Homo sapiens: one gene and its partner. The protein of the gene in region 1 interacts with the protein of each later gene in a biochemical or structural test. Each region holds a gene or a part of one and is shown on either strand. Other genes may lie near its edges.

The links.
Region 2: the proteins of PTPN2 (region 1) and FAM220A form a complex in vitro, tested with the Homo sapiens proteins (one study listed by BioGRID).

What each region holds. Positions count from the first base shown.
Region 1 is NC_000018.10:12,869,379-12,886,262, forward strand, and holds the start of PTPN2 (tyrosine-protein phosphatase non-receptor type 2), read right to left. Parts: upstream 14,860-16,884; 5' UTR 14,764-14,859; coding exon 14,695-14,763; intron 1-14,694. UniProt on the Homo sapiens protein: Non-receptor type tyrosine-specific phosphatase that dephosphorylates receptor protein tyrosine kinases including INSR, EGFR, CSF1R, PDGFR.
Region 2 is NC_000007.14:6,338,845-6,347,687, forward strand, and holds part of FAM220A (protein FAM220A), read right to left. Parts: intron 1-8,843. UniProt on the Homo sapiens protein: Promotes dephosphorylation of transcriptional activator STAT3 by interacting with both STAT3 and protein phosphatase PTPN2.

The DNA of each region.
Region 1 (16,884 bases):
TCAAACTCCTGGTCTCAAGCAATCTGCCTGCCTCGGCCTTCCAAAGCGCTGGTATCACAGGCGTGAGCCATGGCGCCTGGTTTTGAAGTTTTTATTTTAAAAATCTATATTACTGCAACTTAATTTCCATCATTATCGGGGTGAAATAGTTATAATATTTTATTAAATAATGTCAAATAATATTTTTAGTATTTCGTACATAGCTTTGTTCTATGTATGGCATACAGAAAACATTACATCGTTAGACCAAATTCTCCCTCGAACTGCTACGATGTAGTAGCAAATAAGAACTTAGGAAATTGAAAAAGAATAATCTTCTGTTAAATTTTAATTTTATAAGGTAGGACCTTAAGATAATCCCAAATTGATAATGAGTTTCTCCTTATGGGCTAACATACCTAAGTTTCTTTCTTTATACTTTAGGTCTCTAAGTGAATCCTAAATTATATGATGAAAAGTGTTCCCTTTGTTAGTCAGATGTTTGTGCATATACTCTCTACAAAGATGCTCAGAAAAGGACACAGTGAAGTATGAAGAATCTTGCATACTTTGAAACACCATTACTTTAGGATGGTAAAATAACCACTTACTTATAGCCCTTAATATGCCTGCCACTGGCTGGGGAGAGAAGATCCCTGGTGGAGTAAGTTCTTTTCTTCACTACATTTTTTTTTCTTTGAGAAGCTCTCTTTGAGGAAGAGAGTTTAGAGACTAAAACAGCTCACTGTCACTGAACCCTACTGTGTGTCAGGCATGTGCTATGTGCTTTTATGTGTGTTATCTAAGAGGTGGTTACAAATGAGAAAACAGACTCAACTTCCAAGATTTATACTGCAGTTAGGTAGCAGATACAGATAGGAATCCAGTACTTAACTTTAGCATATATATATATATGTATATATATACATATACATATATATGTGTATATATACATATATATGTGTATATATATGTATATATATACATATATATGTGTATATATATGTGTATATATACATATATATACGTATATATGTATATATACACGTATATATATGTATATATATACGTATATATATATGTGTATATATATATATATATATATAGAGAGAGAGAGAGAGAGAGAGAGAGAGAGAGAGAGAAAAGCGTGTTGTTTTTTTTTTTTTTTTGAGACAGAGTTTCACTCTGTTGCCCAGGCTGGAGTGCAGTGGCGCGATCTTGGCTTACTGCAAGCTCCACCTCCCAGGTTTACACCATTCTCCTGCCTCAGCCTCCCGAGCAGCTGGGACTACAGGCGCCCGCAACCACGCCCGGCTACTTTTTTTGTGTTTTTAGTAGAGACGGGGTTTCACCGTGTTAGCCAGGATGGTCTCGATCTCCTGACCTCATGATCCGCCCACCTCGGCCTCCCAAAGTGCTGAGATTACAGGAGTGAGCCACCGCGCCCGGCAGCACATACATATTTTTTTACTTATATTTACATATATTTATATACATATGCTCCCTATGTATACATGGATTACATGGACTTGGCAAAAATTAAACCGTACAAAAGGGTATATAGTGAAAAAGTTAAGTCACATTCTCCTCTCCCTCAATCCTTTCCCTTAGGTGATAACTGTAACCAGTGCCTTGTATATTTTCCGAGACATTCTATCCATATATAAGCCAGACTGCCTGTCTGTCTTCCTCCATCCAAGTATCCATCCCACCCTCACAAAACAGATATTAGCATACTGTTTTGCACTTTGATTTTTCACTTAGTATATATTAAAAGTACTTCCATATAGATAATGAGTTCTTTTTAACAATTTAATAGTATTCATCACTTAGCCAGTCATCTATAATGGGACACATAGGTTATTTCTAGGTTTTAGCTGTTATAAATAATGCTGCTATGAATAACCTTTCAAAGAAGCTATATCAATGTATACTGTCACCAATAATATAAGAAAGTGCCTGAGCTTCACCTACACAATTATATTAATGAACTTTTTCATCTTTGTCTGATAGGTGAAAAATGGTATTATTATAGTCATAATTTGAAATTGTTATTATTGTGAAGGTGAACAGCTTTACCTGTTTTTAAAAGCCATCTGTATTTCCGCTCTCTTTTTGATATGTAGTTCTTTACATATTAAGAAAGTTTAGTTTTTGTTATATATTGAAAATATTTAAAATTTTTTATCTTTTGACCTTTATGGTATTTATGTCAAAAATTTAAATTTTTATGAAATCAAACTTAAACCTTTTTTCTCTAGGTTTCTGTGACATGGCATTAAAAAATCCTTTTTCACTCTGTTGATTACAAAAAATTTTCTCCATTGTTTTCTTATATAATTTTATGGTTTCATTTCTTTTATGTTTAGATTATTGCCCAACCGGGACTTTACTGTAGTATAAAGAATGAGGCAGGGCAGGCATGTTGGCTCACATGTATAATCCCAGCTCTCTGAGAGGTGGGCTGATCACTTGAAGTCAGGAGTTCAAGACCAGCCTGGCCAACATGGGGAAACCCTGTCTCTACTAAAAATACAACAATTAGCTGGGCGTGGTGGTGCACGCCTGTAATCCCAGCTACTGAGGAGGCTGAGGCAGGAGAATCGCTTGAACTCAGCATGCAGAGGTTGCAGTAAGCCGAGATCGTGCCGTAGCATTCCAGCCTGGGGCCACAGAGCAAGACTCTGTCTCAAAAAAAAAACAAAAAAACAAAAAAACAAAAACAAATAAAAAACCCACAAAAAACATAGAACAGAAGCAGTTCCCACTGTTACGAAGTTACTCCAACTTTCTAGGGCTACCCTGATTGATGTACCAGGTCCTTTACTGGGACTAGAGGGGTACAAACTCTAGGAATCCTGTAGCCTTACCTCAAACCACAGGAAGAATTCCTAGAAGTACTATGAAGTAAACTGTAATGAGAAATTGATAGCTTTCAGACTATAAAACCGTTCAAATATAGTGAAAGAAGAAATAAAATAATTCAGTATCAGATTTTCCTTAGGGGAATGAAAGCAGTTTGAAAAAAGGTTATAAATGATCAGTGACACGAACCAAATGAAACTGACAGAGCAAACGGCATATTAAATCAGACATACTGGATTTGAAAAGTTATTCATTGCATTCCCTTCCTCCATTCCTCTCGTTTGAAAAGTATCCAACCTTGAGCCAGTTTCTTTGTTTTGAGACAAACAGTGCTGGGATTACAGGTGTAAGCCACCAGCCCGGCCCCTGAAATCAGTTTCTTGACCACAATTTCTTATCCTAGGGATCACCAGGTGGGCCTATGAACCTACTAAAACCACATGCTAAGTTTGCGGGGGATTGTATTTGTGCGGACATTTCCTCTCATAAACATGTTTCATCTTAAAGGTGTCTAAAGGTATCTATGATCTTTAAAAGCAAGGATTTCACTGTTAAGTCAAAACAACTTCTTGAACCATTAGTAGTACTGTACCGTACATAGAACATTAAATCGGCACAACATTTAAATACATTTAAAATGGCATTACATTCATTCTTAAAAGCTATTTCAGATAATGGCACTGCAGGGCAATGCTATTCCAATTAAGAATGTAACAGGCTGGACGCGGTGGCTCACGCCTGTAATCCCAGCAATTTGGGAGGCCAAGGTGGGTGGATCACCTGAGGTCAGGAGTTCAAGACTGGCCCAGCCAACACAGCGAAACCCCATCTCTACTAAAAATACAAAAATTAGCTGGGTGTGGTGGCGCATGCCTGTAGTCCCTGCTACTTGGGAGGCTGAGGCAGGAGAATCACTTGAACCAGGGAGGTGGAGGTTGCAGTGAGCCAAGATCGTGCCACTGCACTCCAGCCTGGTTGACAGAGTAAGACTCCGTCTCAAGAAAAAAAAAAAAAAGCCTCTCCCTCTCCCTCTGCCTCCTCTCCCTCTCCCCACGGTCTCCGTCTCCCCACGGTCTCCCTCTCCCTCTCTTTCCACAGTCTCCCTCTGATGCCGAGCCGAAGCTGGACTGTACTGCTGCCATCTCGGCTCACTGCAACCTCCCTGCCTGATTCTCCTGCCTCAGCCTGCAGAGTGCCTGCGAGTGCAGGTGCGCGCCGCCATGCCTGACTGGTTTTCGTATTTTTTTGGGGGAGACGGGGTTTCGCTGTGTTGGCCGGGCTGGCCTCCAGCTCCTAACCGCGAGTGATCCGCCAGCCTCGGCCTCCGGAGGTGCCGGGATTGCAGACGGTGTCTGGTTCACTCAGTGCTCAATGGTGCCCAGGCTGGAGTGCAGTGGCGTGATCTCGGCTCGCTACAACCTCCACCTCCCAGCCGCCTGCCTTGGCCTCCCAAAGTGCCCAGAGTGCAGCCTCTGCCTGGCCGCCACCCCGTCTAGGAAGTGAGGAGCGTCTCTGCCTGGCCACCCATCGTCTGGGATGTTAGGAGCCCCTCTGCCTGGCTGCCCAGTCTGGAAAGTGATGAGCATCTCTGCCCGGCCGCCATCCCATCTAGGAAGTGAGGAGCGTCTCTGCCCGGCTGCCCATCGTCTGAGATGTGGGGAGTGCCTTTGCCCCGCCGCCCCGTCTGGGATGTGAGGAGCGCCTCTGCCCGGTCGCGACCCCGTCTGGGAGGTGAGGAGCGTCTCTGCCCAGCCGCCCCATCTGAGAAGGGAGGAGACCCTCCACCTGGCAACCGCCCCGTCTGAGAAGTGAGGAGACCCTCCGCCCGGCAGCCGCCCCGTCTGAGAAGTGAGGAGCCCCTCCGCCCGGCAGCCACCCTGTCTGGGAAGTGAGGAGCGTCTCCACCTGGCAGCCGCCCCGTCCAGGAGGGAGGTGGGGGTCAGCCCCCGCCAGGCGAGCCGCCCCATCTGGGAGGGAGGTTGGGGGGTCAGCCCCCCGCCCGGCCAGCCGCCCCGTCCGGGAGGGAGGTGGGGGGTTCAGCCCCCCGCCCGGCCAGCCGCCCCGTCCGGGAGGGAGGTGGGGGGGTCAGCCCCCCGCTTGGCCAGCCGCCCCGTCTGGGAGGTGAGGGGCGCCTCTGCCCGGCCGCCCCTACTGGGAAGTGAGGAGCCCCTTCCGGGAGGGAGGTGGGGGGATCAGCCCCCGCCCGGCCTGCCGCCTCGTCCGGGAGGTGAGGGGCGCCTCTGCCCGGCCGCCCCTACTGGGAAGTGAGGAGCCCCTCTGCCCGGCCAGCCGCCCCGTCCGGGAGGAAGGTGGGGGGGGGTCAGCTCCCCGCCCGGCCAGCCGCCCCGTCCGGGAGGGAGGTGGGGGGTTCAGCCCCCCGCCCGGCCAGCCGCCCCGTCCGGGAGGGAGGTGGGGGGGTCAGCCCCCCGCCCGGCCAGCCGCCCCGTCCGGGAGGGAGGTGGGGGGGTCAACCCCTCGCCCGGCCAGCCGCCCCACCCGGGAGGTGAGGGGCGCCTCTGCCCGGCCGCCCCTACTGGGAAGTGAGGAGCCCCTCTGCCCGGCCACCACCCTGTCTGGGAGGTGTGCCCAACAGCTCATTGAGAACAGGCCATGATGACAATGGTGGTTTTGTGGAATAGAAAGCAGGGAAAGGTGGGGAAAAGATTGAGAAATCGGATGGTTGCCGTGTCTGTGTGGAAAGAAGTAGACATGGGAGACTTTTCATTTTGTTCTGTACTAAGAAAAATTCTTCTGCCTTGGGATCCTGTTGATCTGTGACCTTACCCCCCAACCCTGTGCTCTCTGAAACATGTGCTGTGTCCACTCAGGGTTAAATGGATTAAGGGCAGTGCAAGATGTGCTTTGTTAAACAGATGCTTGAAGGCAGCATGCTCGTTAACAGTCATCACCACTCCCTAATCTCAAGTACCCAGGGACACAAACACTGCGGAAGGCCTCAGGGTCCTCTGCCTAGGAAAACCAGAGACCTTTGTTCACTTGTTTATCTGCTGACCTTCCCTTCACTATTGTCCTATGACCCTGCCAAATCCCTCTCTGTGAGAAACACCCAAGAATGATCAATAAAAATAAAAATTAAAAAAAAAAAAAGCATAGAACAGAAAAGTTTAGTTTTCTTCTACTCAGGAAAGTGAGAGCTTATATTCTTTAAAGTTAGCCTGTGGAAATGTATCTCTTCCTCAGTTATCAGCTGCTATGTCTTAAATTTTACATGCTAAACTGATTGAGGATTTAGTATATGGCTAATCACTCTTATCCAAAGTAAGGGTGGTATTATTAAAAGTTCAGTTTATTAGTTGGTTTAAATATCCTCTGACTCTCAACAGCTTTCCATTAAGAAAAAACTACCTTAATGGGGCATTAAGTTAAGGAATAGAGAGTAGAGAATCTAGATGAGGATTTCCAAGGGAAACAAATCATACGTAACGTTTATTCAAGAAAGTGAAGAGCACACTATGTTAATTTTAATTTCGCGTACCCAGACCTTATCTGTCCATCTCTCTGGTTTATCTGGACTATTTGGAGACCAAAGGGAAGAAGGGGAGTAGAGAGTGGACAGGTAAGAGGACAAAGACAAGGTAGCTAAAAGAACAGCAGGGGACTGAGAGAGCTGTAACAGTTCTCCAACTGGGAATCAGAAATTCTCTGCAGAGTAACTATCTGGAAAAAGTAAAAAGGGCTTTTAAGATTCTGGTTGGCCAAGCACTGTGGCTCCCCAGCATTATGGAAGGGTGAAGCCGGAAGATCGCTTTAGCCCGGGAGTTCGAGACCAGTCTGGACAACATGGTGAGAACCTGTCTCTACAAAACATAAAAAATTAGCCAAGCATGGTGGCGTGCATCTGTGCAGTGAGCCGTGATCTCATCACTGCACTCCAGTCTGGGTGACAGAGTGAGACCCTGTCTCAAAAAACAAAACAAAACAAAATTCTGGTTAAGGGCTGGGCATGGTGGCTCATGCCTGTAATCTCGCCACTTCGGGAAGCCAAGGTGAGCAGACCACTTGAGGCCGGGAGTTCAAGACCAGACCAGCCTGGCCAACAAGAACAACAACAAAAAGAAGAAGAAGAAGAAGAAATTTGTCAGGCGTGGTGGTGTGTGCCTGTAGTCCCAGCTTCTCGGGAGGCTGAGGCAAAGGACCACTTGAGCCAGGAGTTTTGAGTCTGCAGTGACCTACGATCGTGCCACTGCACTCCAGCCTGGGTGACGGAATGAGACCCCTTCTCAAGAAAAAAAGAAGATTCTGGTTAAAATCAAGAAATCAAAAAAGAGGCAACTAGAAAAGCTAGGAGACAAACGCAACTATCTGGATTTCCGTAATTATAGATATCAGTAATCTATAAACACATGTCAAAGGCAAAACAATATGATTTCTAGGTATACATTCCCCATTGGGGCACCCATCCCAAGGCTGCTTTCCCTTCAAGCAGTGGTCTTTACCTTTTGAGGGATCACAGACAAATCCACTAAGAAACTGACAAAAGCTACAGAATCACCTAGAAACGAAATACCTGGGAACACACGTACATAAAATTTAGCAGTTTCAGGAGATTTGCAAATACCTTTCAAGTCTGATCCCTGGATCCCAGACACTGTTTTAAAGGCCTCAAGTCCCAAAATGACCCTACCTATTATAACACATCCACTCCCTCCTAGCCATCAAAATTAAGACGATTCCCTCTGTGCCACTGATCTCAAATAGATCATAAGAAGAAAGCACTACAGGTAGTCACATGGGTAAATTAGGGCAGTGCTGAAACGAGAATCAGAAGGACTGGATTTGAGTCCCAGTTATGACACTAGCAGATATTGTAACATCAGATAAGTCACAACACTGTATTGGCCCAGTGTTTCCTCAGCCATAAATGAGGGGTTTGGAATAAACTAAGGTGCTGACATTTTAAAAGGGAACAGTTTTCCTGTGTTTACTGAATATTTACTGAGCATCTAACATGTTTCAGGTCCCGTAGGTAGGTGGTGGGAAAACAAAGAAAAAAAAAGACCACCCTCAAGGAGCTACACAGAACAGACAAGTAGACAGTTACAAAACAATGTGGTTCATATTCTAATAAAAGAATATAGAGAACTAAGAAATGAGAGAAGGGGGAGCATTTAACTTTGCCCAAGGAGACTACGGTCTAGTCTTGAAGATGTTTCCCAAATAGATATGGTAGGCATGGAGTATATCCAACACATGAAGACTCCAAGGTGTGAGAGAGTAGCCAATCTTCAAGGGAATTCAGAGTTTGTGCAACCATGTAAAAGCACTGAGATTAGACAGCAGGCAGGAGAATGTGTAACTAGTAGGCAAGGGAAGTGTTTTAGAATAAGACAGCTTTGATTCACCTGCCTAACTGGCTGCCCCGCTGTAAGTATGAGAAGAACAGTGTGCACTTGATATCTGACTTCTAAAAATTAGCTGACTCACAAATGGTAAAAATTGTTCTCTAGCAATATTTGAACTACAAATTTCTAATAAAGAAAAATGGCGGCCAGGCGCAGTGGCTCATGCCTATAATCCCAGCACTTTGGGAGGCCGAGGCAGGTGGATCACAAAGTCAGGAGATCAAGACCATCCTGGCTAACACGGTCAAACCCCGTCTCTACTAAAAATACAAAAAATTAGCCTGGCGTGGTGGCGGGCGCCTGTAGTGTTGGCGGGCGCCTGTAGTCCCAGCTACTCAGAAGGCTGAGGCAGGAGAATGGCGTGAACCTGGGAGGCAGAGCTTGCAGCGAGCCGAGATGACGCCACTGCACTCCAGCCTGGGCAACAGAGCAAGACTGTCTCAAAAAAAGAAAAAGAAAAAAGAAAAATGGCCAGGCACAGTGGCTCATGCTTGTAATCCTAAGCCTTTGGAAGGCTGAGGTGGACAGATTGCTTGAACTCAGGAGTTGAAGACCAGCCTGGGCAAAATAGTTAAACCCTGTCTCTACAAAAAATACAAAAAAATTAGCCAGGCCCAGCTACGTGGGGGACTGAGGCAGGAGGATGTCTAAAGCCCAAGAGGTCGAGACTGCAGTGAGCTGAGATCACGCCACTGCACTCCAGACTGGGTGACAAAGTGAGACCCAGTCTCAAAAAGAAAAGAAAGAAAAAGAAAAAAAAAGAAAGAAAAAGGAAAAAAAGAAAGAAAAAGAAAAATGTGGCTGGGCGTGGTGGCTCACACCTGTAATCCCAGCAGCACTTTGGGAGGCCGAGGCAGGTGGATCACCTGAGGTCAGGAGTTCAAGACCAGCCTGACAAACATGGTGAAACCCCGTTTCTACTAAAAATACAAAAATTAGCTGGGCGTGCTGGTGGGCACCTGTAATCCCAGCTACTCGGGAGGCTGAGGCAGTAGAACTGCTTGAACCTGGGGGGAGCAGAGGTTGCAGTGAGCTGAGATCACACTACTGCACTCCAGCCTGGGGGACAGAGCAAGACTTGGTTTCAAAAAAAGAAAAATGAAGTCAGTCAGGAGTTCCATTGTTTATAAACCCTAATTAATCAACCAATTTCCAAGAGGCTGAGGTGAGAGGCTCACCTGAGCCCAGGAGTTTAAGGTTGCAGTGAGCTATGATTGCACCACTGCACTTGTACTCCAGACTGGGCAACAGAGTGAGAACTCTTTAAAAAAGAAAGGAATTTAAAAATAAATAAGCCAAATTCCTTCTGAGCCATCACTTCTTAGAAACAACCCATAACATAGCTTTTGCGATTCCCCAGTTTTAGTCTTTTCCTCAGTAGGCACACAGACTCCATTCCTTCTCTCTGCCTTTCTCAAAGCTCAGCCTGATGAAGACAGCAATCAGCAGTGACAAAAGGAAAAGCCAAAAAGGGATCATGAACATTACTCAAAAAGTCAGAATTAACCTCACACAATCAGACCAAATTAAACTTTTCCAACTGCACCCTTTGTTTTGCTGTTCTTGTTTTAGAGACAGGATCTCACTCTGTCACCTAGTCTGTAGTGCAGTGGCACAATTATGGCTCACTGCAGCCCTAACCTCCTGACCTCAAGTGATCCTCCCACCTCAGCCTCCCAAAGCGCTGGGATTACAGGGATGAGCCACCGCCTGGCCAGCACTCTTTCACGATCAATTCTTCCACCTGTGTGCTCTTGGTCCCATTGACTCTTGCTTTCTAAGATTTCTGGCTCCAACAATCATCCCTTCTATTTCAACCTCCACCTCTCTCTTTAGGTTCATCCCTGCAATCACATAAATATATCAAGTTGCCCTTTCCTCGTAAAAAGTCATTCATTCAGCACATATTTTCAAGTGCTTACTAAGCACCTGATACTGTGCAAAGCACTGGCAGTGCCTTCATGAAACTCTGAAGAAGTAATAAAAAATATAAACTCAGATTAACAGAGTCTGTTCTGCTCCAACCCAATAATTCATTTCTAAGAAACCTCCTATTATCAAACTCATGAAATAAAAGACACTTTTCAAAAGGAGCAAAAAGGAATAAGGGACCAGAGTTCCAGACTCAAAATACTAAATTCATTTTTCCCGCTAGAATTTCAACAAGGTATCAAGTTCTCCTACCACTAAGCAAGTCCAGCTTTTAGTTGTACTCAGTTTTTGCTCAAGAGCAAAGCCTTTCTTTTCCCAGCTCCATGAGCATTACCAAAAAAAGCACAACTCTTCAAAAACATTATCAGAAACATCACCCACTGCTGTGCTAAACAAAGCAGAAAGCCACCTTAAACACTTTTTTCCTACTCAAGCTGTGTTACTTTCAAGATAGTGGTTTGCTTAATGCAAATTGTGTTCCCGAAATCATTTGCTGCTGTATGACATCCAATTCCCGCTATGAAAGGGGAAGTCTTGGGATGCTAAAGAAGTACGCAACAGGGGCTCATACCCAGCATGGGCAGGTCAAGAAGGCCTGCCAAGGAAGTGAGACTTCAGGGATGAGTAGGAGGCAGTTTAAGCAAGAAAGGAAAGAGAAGGGGGGAAAGTTGTGCCAAGGCAAAGAGAACAACATTTACAAACGCCCTAAGGGGAGAATGGACACACACACTTCCAAGAATACAACACAGTGGAAAAGAGGGAGGAAAGTGATAGGGGAAATCAAGCAAGAGACACAGGCCATGAGGTCTTGTGAGCCGGAGGAGGGGCTGAATTTACACTGTGAGCAACGGAAAGCCGTTCAAGGGTTTAAGTGAGAAGTCACACAATCTTGCTTCATTTTAGCTACCTCTCCCCACTTCTTCAAGTTGGGCTTCTAAAAAGAGCAGTGTACACTTGGTAGTTTGCATTTCCTCCTACCTTCTCTCCTGAACTCCAGGTATCTGTCTTGTGTAGTCCGCTGACACAACTCCCTTTAAGGTATCTGTTAATCTAGCTGCTCAATGTCATGGCCCTCTCAGGCTGGCCCTTACCTGTCAGGTGGCCCTGCTCACCCTCAACTCCCTCCACTGCTTTCCTCCCCACTTCTGTGGTTGTTCCTCACCAGTCTTTTTTGCAAGTTCCTCTTTCTCCACCCATCCTTTTAAATGTTGTCTGTCAAGATTCTGTCCTTGGCCTTTGATATTTCCAAACGCTCTGTATCTTCCCTAGATGATCTCATCAATGTCTAAGACCTCAAATATCACCCATGTGTTCATGATTTCCAAAATCACATTTACTCAGACCCTCTCTCCCGAACTCCAAATTTATACATTCAACTAGCTTCATTTCAGTGTCTCGCAGGTACCTCAAACAGAATTAAAGTTTCAAAACCAAACTTGTACATAACGTATACCCCTTTACCATTTCATTTCAAATCTGTATCTCCCCTCCATCCCTCCTGCCACTGCCTAACAGAAGCTCATCATGTCTCTTCAGGTTTACTCCAACCGACTACTGCCCTGTGCTGCGTGCCTACACTTTCCTCATCCAGTCTGCTAGCAGTCAGAACGATCTTGCTAACAAGTAAATATGATCAGCCCAGAGCAGTGGCTCATGCCTGTAATCCCAGCACTTTGAGAGGCCGAGGCAGGCGGATCACCTGAGGTCAGGAGTTCGAGACCAGCCTGGCCAACATGTCGAAACCCTGTCTCTACTAAAAGTACAAAAAAATCAACCGGGCATGGTGGTGTGTGCCTGTAATTTCAACTACGCAGGAGGCTGAGGTAAGTGAATCACTTGAACCCAGGAGGCAGAGGTTGCAGTGAGCTGACGTCGCACCACTGCACTCCAGCCTGGGCGACAGAGCGGGACTCTGTCAAAAAAAAAAGAAGCAAATATGATCATGGTATTTCCAGACTTACAATTCCACAATGAGTTCCTATTAAACAGCTCAAATTCCTTAGTCTGATCTAGGCTCTGCCTTACTCTCCAGCATCTCAACTTCACACCAGTCTCCAGGCTAAACTGTGGGTGGTTCTCTCAGCATTCCCTCAGTGCCTTTGTGCACTCCCTCCTTGCTGGAACAGTAATTCTCTTCACCTCCCTTGTCCTCTTCCCCTGGCCAATGTCTTTCAAGACTTAGGTGAGGTCCTCCCTCCCTCGAGAAGCTTCACCAGAACTCCCATGTGTACCCCTTTTTGGGAAATACAGGACTCCTAGGTAACTCAACTCCACAAGACCCTGTGCTTCAAGCTAGCTTTACATGTATCACTTTAACGTTTTCATCAGCTTACCTATTTACAGGGCTGCATCCTTAAAAACTGGGACTCCTGTCTTTTAACAAGAATCCTCAGTGTCTAACACTAGCACATAACAAGCATGTTATGAACGAATGAATGAAAATATGGAACTACAATGAGGCCCCAAAAGAATAAGCCCTAGAGTGAGCACCTCGAGGGTAGGAAACTTGCCAGGAGCATTCTCTGCTGAATCCCCAAGGCCAGGAGCAAAAGCTGCAACTCCACTGGGGGTCCGGGCATATTTGTGGAATGGCTGAATGGATGTTCTAAGGCCACAGGAGAACACATAGCTCAAACTTCCTGACTTGCTTTCCATTACTAACTTTCTTGGTTTGTGACCTACTTTTACTGTAACACCAGTGTGCATGCCATGGTTTCTACTGACCAAACTAATGGTCTTGTTTTCAACTAGGAAAAAATAATATGAGCATTGACCAACCAAGGAAACTACAGGATTCCTCGGTAAGAATCTATAGAAGGATTTCCTTATCTTTTTGAAAATGCATGTGAAATCTCCAGTGGATGCGAGTTAAGTTCATTTTTCTGGAAAGAGGAATCACAATTCTCATTGAATTTTCAAGGATATTAATGATACCAAAGAAAATTAAATTTCTTAAACCAAAATGTTAAGCTGAATTAAGTTATATTCACTTTTCTCTTTTCAAATCTATTTCGATATATAACCTATCCCTTAGAGAGACAGCAGCCTCTGCTAAAACAAATGTAACTGGAGAAGATGCAGCTGGCAGGCTCTCTCACATGAAGATTCCTACCAGAATTTGCGTTTCAGATTGTCTATAATTGGAAGAGTCCTTACCAGCATTCTTTAAAACTTAGATCCCTATTCTAACATACTCTGTATCATGGGAATCAGAATATTTATACTTCCCACTAATGTGTTCAAGAAGAAAACGTTACTTTCTGAACACATTTTTCACTGCCATCTAATTAAATGGAAAGGGGAAAAACCCAGGATCATCCATTTACAGGAAAGCCCGTCTTTTACTTTACACAGAGAGAACCAAACATCAGAAGCAGCATTAACTTAACCGTCACCAAATTCAATCTTGGGAATAATACGACAAGGATTAAACGAAGGGGAAAGCAGTTACATCATTTTAAAAGAGATAAAGTTTTGTTTGAATTAAAAGGTAGTCTAGTTGACATAAAAAAAGCGAATCACAGGTGTTTATACTACATATTGCATCTATGTGAGCTGAACAGGCACGATTAGGGCGATAGGCATCGGAACACCGTGCCCCCGGGGAGGGGATGAGGGCACTTTCTCAGGGCAAGGAAAGGCTATTTTGATTTGAGGGGGCTTGCAAGAGGGGATTCATTTGTGACACCCGTCTGGGAGCACACATGAAAGCTGCGTTTCACTGTAGGGAAAGTATACCTCAGTAAGGAAAACTATAAAGAGAATGACACGCTATCACTGGACGAACACAAGCAAAGCCTCTTTCGTTCCGGGAAGGTTCTATGGGGGCCGAACCCACGCTGGGCGCTGCTGGGCCACGGGGGAAAATGAAGACGGAGGGTCCCGAGAGCGCTGCCCTCGCCAGAGGCCACGAGCCACCCCCAACCACCGCGGCTCCGCCAGGAGAGCGAGCTTCGCCTCGCAGAGGGCTGCGGCGGCCGGCCCGGCGCCCAGAGCGGCCTGCTCCCACAGGTCCTGCGCGGGCGCCAGCTGGACCCGGACGCCGCGGCCCGGCTCGCCCGCCCCCGCCCTCACCGCTCCCGGGGACGCCAGCTGCCCACCCGGCCACAAAACACCCGGCCAGAGAAAGAGCTGTCCGCGAGCAAGAACCAAGCACAGCGGCGTGGGAGCTACGGCGAAGCTGCGGCCCGGGGGCGCGCGCCCGAGCGCCCCCACGGCTTTCCCAAGGACCCCCAGACCCGGGCCGCGCAACGCTGGTGGCGCATCCACGCGCTCCCCAAGAAGCCGCTGTGGCACCGCCCTCCAGAACTAACTGCGCTTGCGCTAACCATGAGCTGCTCAGCTCAAGTATGCTTTTTTTTTTTTTTTTTTTAAACCAAAAGGAGCAAGAGAGCGGTCAGCGCAGGCGCGCCCCTGACGCGGACCGCGCCGCCACTTCCGCCCCGAGCGAGAGGCTAGAGGCGAGAGGCGGGGGAGGCGGGAGGGACCCTGCGGACAGGGCACGAGTCCGGGTCTCGGAGGAGGTCGGCGACTGCCGCGTGGGTCCGCGACTCACCAAGTACAGCGGCTGCCAGCGACGCTGAGTATCCAACTCTTCGAACTCCCGCTCGATGGTGGTGGGCATGGCTGCGGGAGCGAGCTGGCGCGAGCAGAGCCTGCGCCGGCGGAGAGGCTCAGGCCCCGCACGATCCGGGGAGAGCGCTGGCGCTGCGGCGCATGCGCGCTGCGCGCCGCGCCCCGCCCCCACGCCAAGCCCTGTCGGCCGTGGGGAAAGTACCTGGAGCGTCGGACGTCAGCGCGCAGACTCGGCGCCCGAGCGCGGCGCGAAGTCGGCGGCGGGGCGGGGCGGGGCGCTCGGGGGGCGGGGCTCGGGGTGCCCAGGTGGGAGGGGGCGGGGCCAGGGGACCACCCGGCGGCCGTGGTCCCTGCGCGCGGCACGAGGTGAGCCGCCCCTTGGGCTTGCGTCTTCCGACAAGAGAGAGGCGGTGGTCCGTGGGTAGCGCGGGGTTACTGGAATGGGACTCCCTGAGGAAGTCCCCTGAGAAGTCGCCGGCACGCTCCGCCTTCCTTCTTGCTTCCCATTTCTCGTTTTCTTCTCAGCCTTCATAGTTTTTTAAAGTGCTGTATTTGAATATTATTTTAAACATCATCTAGGTCAGATTAGCGGCCTGTGACCAACTTGGAAACAAATTCCTCATTCTTTTCTGCCCTGGTGTCAGCTCCTGTAAGCCTGCAGATTTTATGCCAAATAAACCGCTGGAGCAAAAGGAAAGGCAGCCAGCCTCTCCCGGAATTTGGGAGAGGGATACCTTGTTAAGAAAACGTTCTACAACTTACGAATTAGATTTAACTGTAAAAAATAGCACGTCCTCTTTTACCAAACAAACGTACTAGTTAGGGAAATCATCTTGCTTCAGATTTAAGATAGTTCTTTTTTAGTGCTTGTAATATCCTGCTATATAATCTTCATAAGAAACGTGAAGGGTTAGGAAAGGTTTAGCCGTGCTGTCCAGTATTGGGATTTAAATTTTAAATATTAACTTAATTCCTCAGTGGCACCAGCCACATTTCAGGTGTGCCATAACCATGTATGGCTAGTGGCTGCTATGTGGCAAAGTACATATGTAGAACGTTTCTATCATCGAAGACAGTTCTTTTGGACAGAGCCGGCCGAGAGGATTACAATACTTGGGGCAGAAAAGTGTCCTTAATCACATAAAATAATGAAAACCCTAGCCAGAAAAAAAAAAAAAAAAGTTGGCTACGGAAGCTAGAAGAAATCGTATTAACAAAAAAGCAGTCAGCAAGCTTTCTACTTACATAGTATGATTTAGAGATACAGGAAAGCTTCCCCCGAAAGACCCCACAATGTCTAATGGTCCTTGGTTCTGAAATTCTGTCATTGAATCTGATTATTTTGATTAAAGGCATGGTATCTCCCAGAATATCCTGTGAATGTTCGCATTAGTCTGCTCATCAGATTGCTTTCCAACCAAAAAATACTGTGTTCTACAAAGGAGGAGCATCTTTATCTCAAAGCAGCAGTTCTTATCGCCAAGTATTCAGCATCTCTTTGGAATTCATTTGTCAGCCTCTCTGGTTCCGGGAGCTGTATTTGCCTATCTTAGTTTGCTGAGTGCAGCGAAGAATCTAGAACAGTGGTTCTCACACCAGCATCATTTGCATCCAGTGTGAGCTTCTTTGAAATGCAAATTTGAAGGCCTCACCCCAAACTACTGAATCAGAATCTCTGGTGTTGGGGCCCCAGGAGACTACTTAAGCAAGCTCTCCTGGGGATGCCTGTGCCCCCCCAGAGTTTGAGAATGATTGCTCCAGAAGAATACCTATACAGGGCTGCACTGAAGCCCGGGGGTAAAAAGAAAACAGAGGTTAACTTGCTTCGAGATATCCTGCTGACAAGATATGACTTGGTCTCTCCGACATATGTGACTCCCAACCCAACTAGTTCCTAGCTTGCTGTTTCTAAAGGACCCCAAATGTAGACTTTTGCCCCTTTTGAAGTCAAGATCAGAAGTTCTCAGGATTTTAAAATGTCAGGCTTCCCTATTGCCCCCAAATTGTTCAAAGTCCTTTGATAGTAGGCATACTTTTATGTGCATACTGTTTATATATTTGAGGAAATATATAATGAACAAAGTCTATTAATTTAAAAAATTACAAATTCATTTAAAAGAATTATGAAATTAAGTAGCAAAGTGTATTTTTAAATAATAGTACATATATG
Region 2 (8,843 bases), on another chromosome or scaffold:
GCTAGTCCCAAAGGGGAGAAGACACAGCTAAAACCAGCAGGGCCGCGGTGGGCCTTGAGGGACTGCCGCACGCAAGGAGAGCTCACACACGCTCCCAGATGGGCCAGCTCCACACCCCTCAGGTGTGAACGCTAGCACACCTTAACTCACTGTGCTCATGGCCCAAATGATCAGACTGGAGGTAGCAGAAACAAACCCCCGGATTTCCACACAGCCTAGAGGAGGAGAAACAGCAATGACCACAGCACTTCTAAATTAGGCTGAATCATGATCACAAGGAACACACTAACATCACTGAGTTCCTGCTACTCGCCACTTGGCACGTCTAAATCACACCTGATGGCCAGGTGTGGTGGCTCACACCTGTAATCCCAGTACTTTGGGAGGCCGAGGTGGGGAGATCACTTGAGCCTAGGAGCCGGAGACCAGCCTGAGCAACACAGCAAGACCCCCATCTCTACAAAAAATTAAAAAATTAGCTGGGTGTGGTGCACACACCTGTGGTCCCAGCTACTCAGGAGGTCGAGGTGGGAGGATCGTTTGAGCCTAGGAGTTTGAGACCAGTCTAGGCAACATAGCAAGACCCCATCTCCATAAAAAATAAATCATCTGCCCCTATAAAACCAGCTGTGTACCCCTTTTTTTGTTTTTTTTTTTGAGACGGAGTCTCGCTCTGTCGCCCAGGCTGGAGTGCAGTGGAGCAATCTCAGCTCACTGCAAGCTCCGCCTCCCAGGTTCACGCCATTCCGCTGCCTCAGCCTCCGGAGTAGCTGGGACTACAGGCGCCCGCCACCACGCCTGGGTAATGTTTTGTATTTTTAGTAGAGACAGGGTTTCACCATGGTCTCGATCTCCTGACCTCATGATCCACCCACCTCAGCCTCCCAAAGTGCTGGGATTACAGGCAAGAGCCACTGTGCCCAGCCGTACCCCTCTCTTAACCACTGCCCTGTCTCCCCCTCCCGGTCCCCTGGATGCTCACAGGTGCGATCACAAGGAGAGGAGAGTGTGCAGAGGCCGGGTGCCAGCTCGGCGTCAGGCAACTGACTTTCCGCAGGGAGCATGAGTCTCACTCTGCCGCCCAGGCTGGAGTGCAGCTGCATGATCTCAGCTCACTGCAACCTCCACCTCCTGGGTTCAAGCACTTCTCCTGCCTCAGCCTCCTGAGTAGCTGGGATTACAGGCATGCACCACCACACCCAGCTAATTTTTGTATTTTTAGTAGAGATGGGGTTTCTCCATGTTGACCAGGCTGGTCTCAAACTCCTGACCTCAGGTGATCCGCCCGCCTCGGCCTCCCAAAGTGCTGGGATTACAGGCATGAGCTACCGCGCCCGGCCCCTCCCAGGATTCTGTGAAGATTCGATGTATGAGAAGCAGCCAGAATCTTCTCTGACTACTCTTCTCTGACTAGCATCCTAAGGGCATCCCAGCTGCTGTCGATCAGAATCAACAGCAGCTACTATCATCATCATGACCAAAAGTGTTTCAGGGAAGGACAAAACGCTGCTGAGAGGGTTGGTGCGGTGGAGGACGGAGAAGCGACCACTGCATGTGTGTACAGACACAGCCCCAACATGGGTAAGTACACTTCAGTAGAAGGGCAGAGGCCGTGCCATACCTGGAGTCGGCTGAAGCACGGAGGCCGTGCTGCACCTGGAGTTGGCTGAAGGGCAAATACAGACCACCCACAGCTTCCCCAACATTGCCAGGGAGGGAATTCAGGATAACAGACTCGAAGGAGGGCAGGTTGACAATGACTTAAAAAATTATGAGTGCTGGCTGGGCATGGTGGGATTATTCCCAGCACTTTGGGAGGCCGAGGCGGGCGGATCACGAGGTCAGGAGATCGAGACCATCCTGGCTAACACGGTAAAACCCTGTCTCTACTAAAAATACAAAAAATTAGCCGGGCGTGGTGGTGGGCACCTATAGTCCCAGCTACTCGGGAGGCTGAGGCAGGAGAATGGCGTGAACCCGGGAGGCGGAGCTGGCAGTGAGCCGAGATGGCGCCACTGCACTCCAGCCTGGGCGACAGAGTGAGACTCCATCTCAAAAAAAAAAAAAAAAAAATTATGAAAGCTGTCATCCTGCCTAACATGGTGAAACCCTGTCTCTACTAAAAAAAAAAAAAAAAAAAATTCAAAAAATTAGCCAGGTGTGGTGGTGGGAACCTACAGTCCCAGCTACTCGGGAGGCTGAGGCAGGGGAATGGCATGAACCCAGGAGGTGCAGCTTGCAGTGAGCTGAGATCGTGCCACTGCACTCCAGCCTGGGCGACACAGCAAGACTCTGTCCCAAAAAAAAAAATGAGTGCTGGCCAGGCACAGTGGCTCACCCCTGAAATCCCAGCACTTTGGGAGGCCAAGGAGGGTAGATCAGGAGGTCAGGAGATTGAGACCATCCTGGCTAACACGGTGAAACCCCATCTCTACGAAAATACAAAAAATTGGCTGGGCCTGGTGGCGGGCGCCTGTAGTCCCAGCTACTCGGGAGGCTGAGGCAGGAGAATGGTGTGAACCGGGAGGCGGAGCTTGCAGTGAGCGGAGATCGCGCCACTGTACTCCAGCCTGGGTGACAGAGCAAGACTCTGTCTCAAAAAAATAATAATAATAATTATTATTATTATTATGAGCACTGTCATCCTGGCTAACGTGGTGAAACCCTGCCTCTACTAAAAAAAAATTTTTTTTAAATTAGCCAGGTGTAGTGGTGGGAGCCTGTAGTCCCAGCTACTCGGGAGGCTGAGGCAGGGGAATGGCGTGAACCCAGGAGGTGGAGCTTGCAGTGAGCTGAGATCGCGCCACCGCACTCTAGCCTGGGCCACAGAGCAAGACTCTGTCAAAAAAAAAAAAAAAAATTATGAGTGCGCGCCAGGTGCAGTGGCTCACCCCTGTAATCCCAGCACTTTGGGAGGCCAAGGTGGGTAGATCACCTGAGGTCAGGGGTTCAAGACCAGCCTGGCCATCACGGTGAAACTCTGTCTCTACTAAAAATACAAACATTACCCAGGCATGGTGGTGGGCACCTGTAATCCCAGCTGCTTGGGAGGCTGAGGCAGGAGAATCACTTGAACCCGAGAAGTGGAGGCTGCAGTGAGCCAAGATCATACCATTGCACTCCAGCCTGGGCGACAAGAACAAGACTCCATCTCAAAAAAAAAATTGCAAGTGCTGAAAACCTTTGATTCAAGATTCTAAAGATTTTCTGCCACACATTCAATGAGCAATCACTCATTAAGAACCTACCCTACGCCAGGTGCCAGGTGCTGTTCTAGGTGCTGGTATTAGGTTGGTATACCAAGCAGACAGTCTCTTCTTAAAGCTTCATTTTCTTTCCTTTCTTTTTTCTTTCTTTTTCTTTGTTTCTTACTTTCTCTTTCTCTCTCTCTCTTTCTGTCTTATAGAAACAGTGTCTAGGCTGGGTGCGGTGGCTCACACCTGTAATCCCAGCACTCTGGGAGGCCGAGGCAGGTGGATCTCTTGAGCCCAGGAGCTGGAGACCAGCCCAGCTAACATGGCAAAACCCCGACTCTACTAAAAATACAAACATTAGCTGGGCATGGTGGTAGGCACCTGTAATCCCAGCTACTCGGGAGGCAGGAGAATCACTTGAACCCAGAAGTCAGAAGTTGCAGTGAGCCAAGATCACACCATTGCACTGCAGCCTGGGTGACAAAGCGAGACTCTGTCTCAAAAAAAAAAGTGATCTTTTTGAAATGGTTAGAGGAGTTACATATGATCCAGCAATTCTGCTCTAAGTATACACCCAAGAGAAATAAAAACCGATGTCCACACAAAGCTTACATGCAAATGTTCGTAGTAACATTATTCACAATAGCCAAAAAGTGAAAGCAACCCAAAAGTCCAACATAGAAAGACATAAAAGACAAAAACAAAAGACTAAGCAGGGCCAGGTATGATGGCTCACACTTGTAATCTCAGCACTTTGGGAGGCTGAGGCAGGAGGATTAGTTGAGGCCAGGAGTTCGAGACCACCCTGGGCAACATAGTGAGACCCCATCTAGAAACAAAATGAAAAAATCAACCAGGCATGGTGGCACATGCCTGTAGCCCCAGCTACTCAGAAGGCTGAAGTGGGAGGATGGCTTGAGTCCAGGAGCTGGAGGCTGTAGTGAGCTATGATCGCACCACTGCACTCCAGCCTGGATGACAGAGGAAGACGCTTTCTCAAAAAAAAAAAAGAAAAAAGAAAGAAAGAAAGAGGAAGAGAAAAGAAAAGAAAAAATTGGCCAGGTGCAGTGGCTTACACCTGTAATCCCAGCACCTTGGGAGGCCGAGGAGGGTGGATCCCCTGAGGTCAGGAGTTCAAGACCAGCCTGGCCAACATGGTGAAGCCCCGTCTCTACTAAAAATACAATAATTAGCTGGGCGTGGTACCAGGCACCTGTAATCCCAGCTACTCAGGAGGCTGAGGCAGGAGAATCGCTTGAACCTGGGAAGCGGAGGTTGCAGTGATCCAAAATCACACCACTGCACTCCAGCCTGAGCCACAAGAGTGAAACTCCGTCTCAAAAAAATAATAATAATTTCATATATATATATATATATATATATATATATATATATATATATATATATGATCTAGGACTAAGAAACACTTCGTTCTTCCCACAGGCCATATAACTGAAAAGTTGTAGGCATGACTTGTTAAATTATAGCAGATTCACAGTACCATTTTTAATCTTGCTTTTACTAAATTTAGTATTTGGTATTGATTCCATTTAACTGCCTTGTATTTCAGATTCTGTATAAATAAGAAGGATGCTAAGAACTCCAGGAGATTAAGGCTTGCTTGCAAATAGTATTTTAAAATCATAACCATTCTCAGTATACAACTGTCTGCATCATTTTCTCATTTAATCATCTTTCATCCTAAAGAGGTATTAACCTCCTTAAAATGCCTCACTGCCCTACAAACTAGAGATCTAGGGAGGAGGGGCTCCCTAAACAAATTTGGAAAATGGAGTTCCTTAGGCCTTATTACTCATGAAACAGATTCTAACATTCCTGCAATGAAGAGGATGGGTATGGCTTTTTCTTTTTAGTCTCACTCTGTCACCCATGCTGGAGAGCAGTGGTGGGATCATAGCTTACTGTAGCCTTGAACTCCCAGGCACAGGTGATCCTCCCACCTCAGCCTCCCAAGTAGCTGGGACTACAGGCATGCACCACTACATTCAACTAACTTTTAATGTTTTGTAGTGATGGTGTCTCACTATGTTGCCCAGGCTTCTCAAGCTCCTGGCCTCAAGCGAGGGTAAAGCATGTTCTGAAGAACAAGAAAAAAAAAAAAAAGGCGTGGGGCTGTCCCCCTTATTCCTTCAGATTCTATTTCCTGTTGTACCTCCCTTTACCAGAAAGCCACAAAAATTAAACCTTCAAATCAGGTAAGTTAGTGTTTTTTCACAAATGAACAAAAACTCTAAAACCTGCAGGGGAGTTTAAAGTAGCAGAGGTAAATATCAAGGCCAAGAAGACAGACACCCCACTCCCCACCCCCATGATGTGACATGGCTGCTTGTTGCACTTGGTCAAGCCCAAGCCTACAATCTTCACACTTGTGTCTTTTTTTACAGACGGGGTCTTGCTCTGTTGCCCAGCCTGGAGTACAGTGGTACAATTATAGCTCACTGCCTCCTCGACCTTCTGGCCTCAAGTGATCCACCTCAGTCTCCCAAGTAGCTGGGACTATAGGCATGCACCACCACGCCCAGCTAATTTTTGTATTTTTTGTAGAGACGGAGTTTCGCCCTGTTGCCCAGGCTGGTCTCAAACTCCTCAGTTCAAGTGATCCTCCCACCTTGGACTCCCAAAGTGCTGGGATTACAGGGTTGAGTCACGGCACCTGGCCCACTCAATTCTTTTTTTTAAATTTTATTATTATTTTTTTGGAGACGGAGTCTCACTGTGTTGCCCAGGCTGGAGTGCAATGGCACGAACTTGGCTCACTGTAACCTCCACCTCCCAGGGTTCAAGTAATTCTCCTGCCTCAGCCTCCCAAGTAGCTGGGATGACAGGCGCATGCCGCCATGCCCGGCTAATTTTTGTATTTTAGTAGAGATGGGGTTTCACCATGTTGGCCATGCTGGTCTCAAACTCCTGACCTCAGGTGATCTGCCTGCCTCAGCCTCTCAAAGTGCTGGGATTTACAGGCGTAAATCCCACCACGCCCGGCCACTGCGCCCGGCCAGAGTTTAGCTTTCTTTTAGAAATGACATGATCAGATTTATGGGAGGTTATGTGTTTTTCTTGTTGTTGTTTAATTTTAGAGACAGAGTCTCACTCTGTTGCCCAGGCTGGTGTGCAGCATCATGATCACGGCTCACTGCATCTTCGGCCTCCTTGGCTCAAGCGATCCTCCCACCTCTGCCTCCCAAGTAGCTGGGATTACAGGCACGCACCACGACACCCGGCTAATTTATTTTTTGTACAGACTGGGGTCTTGCTGTGTTGCCCAGGCTGGTCTGGAACTCCTGGGCTCAAGTGATCCTCCCACCTCAGTCTCCCAAAGTGCTGGGATTATAGGCATGAGCCACCACACCCAGCCCTCGATCTGATTTGTTTTTTAGAAGTTGCCTCTGATTGCTTGGTGGAGATGGCAGATACTACAATAGTCCAGGCGAGTGGATACAGTAGGGTAGACTAGAGAGGTGGTTATAAATAGAGAAGCAGATATATGAAAAAGGTAACTGTTTCAATGGTAAAGAGCATACCAATTTTCACCAAAACAGCATCATGTAGCAGGTTTTCTCTTATAGCCATTCTTGTGATTTTTACAAATGACTGCAAATTACGTTACTCTAGACAAAAAGGGGAGTACAGGAGCCAAATACAGCCTGTAGACACTTTTTGTTTTGCCCTCAAAGTTTCTTTTTTTAAAATCTGTTTTTTTGGTGGTGGTTATTATTATTATTTTTTTGAGACAGAGTCTCGCTGTGTTTCCCAGGCTGGAGTGCAGTAGGGTGATCTTGGCTCACTGCAACCTCCATCTCCTGGGTTCAAGTGATTCTCCTGCCTCAGCCTACCATGTAGCTGGGATTACAGGCGTGCACCATCACACCTGCCTAATTTTTGTATTTTTAGTAGAGATGGGGTTTTGCCATATTGTCCAGGCTGGTCTTAAACTCCTGACCTCAAGTGATCCGCCTGCTTCAGCCTCCCAATATACTGGGATTACAGGCATGAGACACCATGCCCAGCCAAAGTTTGTTTTTTAAAAATCCGGATTGGAAATCTAAAAATCTTGACTTCTGATTTCTCTTGGTGCTGACTAGATACGGCAAATACTGGGCCCCTATTTTCGAAGGTGGTAACTGGGGAGGGCTCAGGCCTTCTCGTTTACCAGTCCCCTGAACTGACACAGGAGCACCCTTCACTCAATTCAAGCCACCTGGTGGAGGTTTTGACCCCTCTAATCAGGTATAATTTCAGAATGCTACAAGCCCTTGATCACATGACAGTACCTCAATTTGGACCTCAAAATAAAGAGGCCAGTTAATCTCAACTCATTTACTTACTTGAGACAGAATCTTACTGTCGCCCAGGCTGGAGTGCAGTGGCACAATCTCGGCTCACTGCAACGTCTGCCTCCCAGGCTCAAGCGATCCTCCCACCTCAGCCCCACAAGCAGCTGGGACTACAGGTGCACGCCACCACTGCCCGGCCACCACGCCCAGCTAATTTTTTGTATTTTAGTAGAGACAGGGTTTCACCCTGTAGCCCAGGGTGGTCTCAAACTCCTGAGCTTAAGCGACGCAGACACCTTGGCCTCCCAAAGTGTTGGGATTACTTACAGGAGTGAGCTACTGTGCCCAGCCATCTTAACTCAATTTGGATCAACAGCCGGTGTTAGGTTTCATGTTAATTACCATCACCTGTGTCAGGCACCAGCCACCTGAAGACCTGCTACTGGGACAATCATACTTTGATATGGCCAAACCGACGTTAGAAAGGGACGGCACCTGCAGTGTGGTGGTTCTACTGCTCAGACTGGTTCATTCTGCACGCCAGGGAGCAACCCAAGGACCGTCCAACTGTAAACTCCCCAAAGGAGGGTCCCTCCTTCAGCACAGAGGTATGCAAATGGAATGCAAGAGGGGCTCAGGACTTGGCCAGCTTTCTTTGAGAAAGAATTCTCGAGTTGACAACCTTTCCTTCCACTAGAAAAAGTCATCTGAGGCTGGGCTCACTGGGTTCTGACTGTAATCCTAGTGCTTTGGGAGGGCAAGGCAGGAGGATCACTTGAGGCCAGAAGTTCAAGACCAGCCTTGGCAACATGGGAAGACCCTGTCTCTACCAAAAAGGAAAATATAAAAGAAAGAAAAAGGCAACTGGAATTCAAGGGATGTAGAAATATCAGTCTCTTGGCTGGGCGCTGTGGCTGACGCCTATAATCCCAGCACTTTGGGAGGTCGAGGCGGGCAGATCACTTGAAGTCAGGATTTTGAGACCAGCCTGGCCAACATGGTGAAAACCCAACTCTACTTAAAAATACAAAAATTAGCCTGGCGTGGTGGCGGGCACCTGTAGTCCCAGCTACTCAGGAGGCTGAGTCAGGAGAATCGCTTGAACTCGGGAGGCAGAGGTTGCAGTGAGCTGAGATGGCGCCACCGCACTCCAGCTTGGGCAAGAGTAAGACTCTGTCTCAGGGAAAAAAAAAAAAGAGATACCAATTTTTTACAGCAAAGGCGGTCTCCAGGGTGCTGGGGTGTGAGCATACTCTAAGATCAGCTGAATGGTTCCAGGCCTCTGAGACGTTTTGTGCTTCCACGTCTTCCACTTTATTTTCCCTGGTCTTCACCCTCACAACTCAGTTCCACC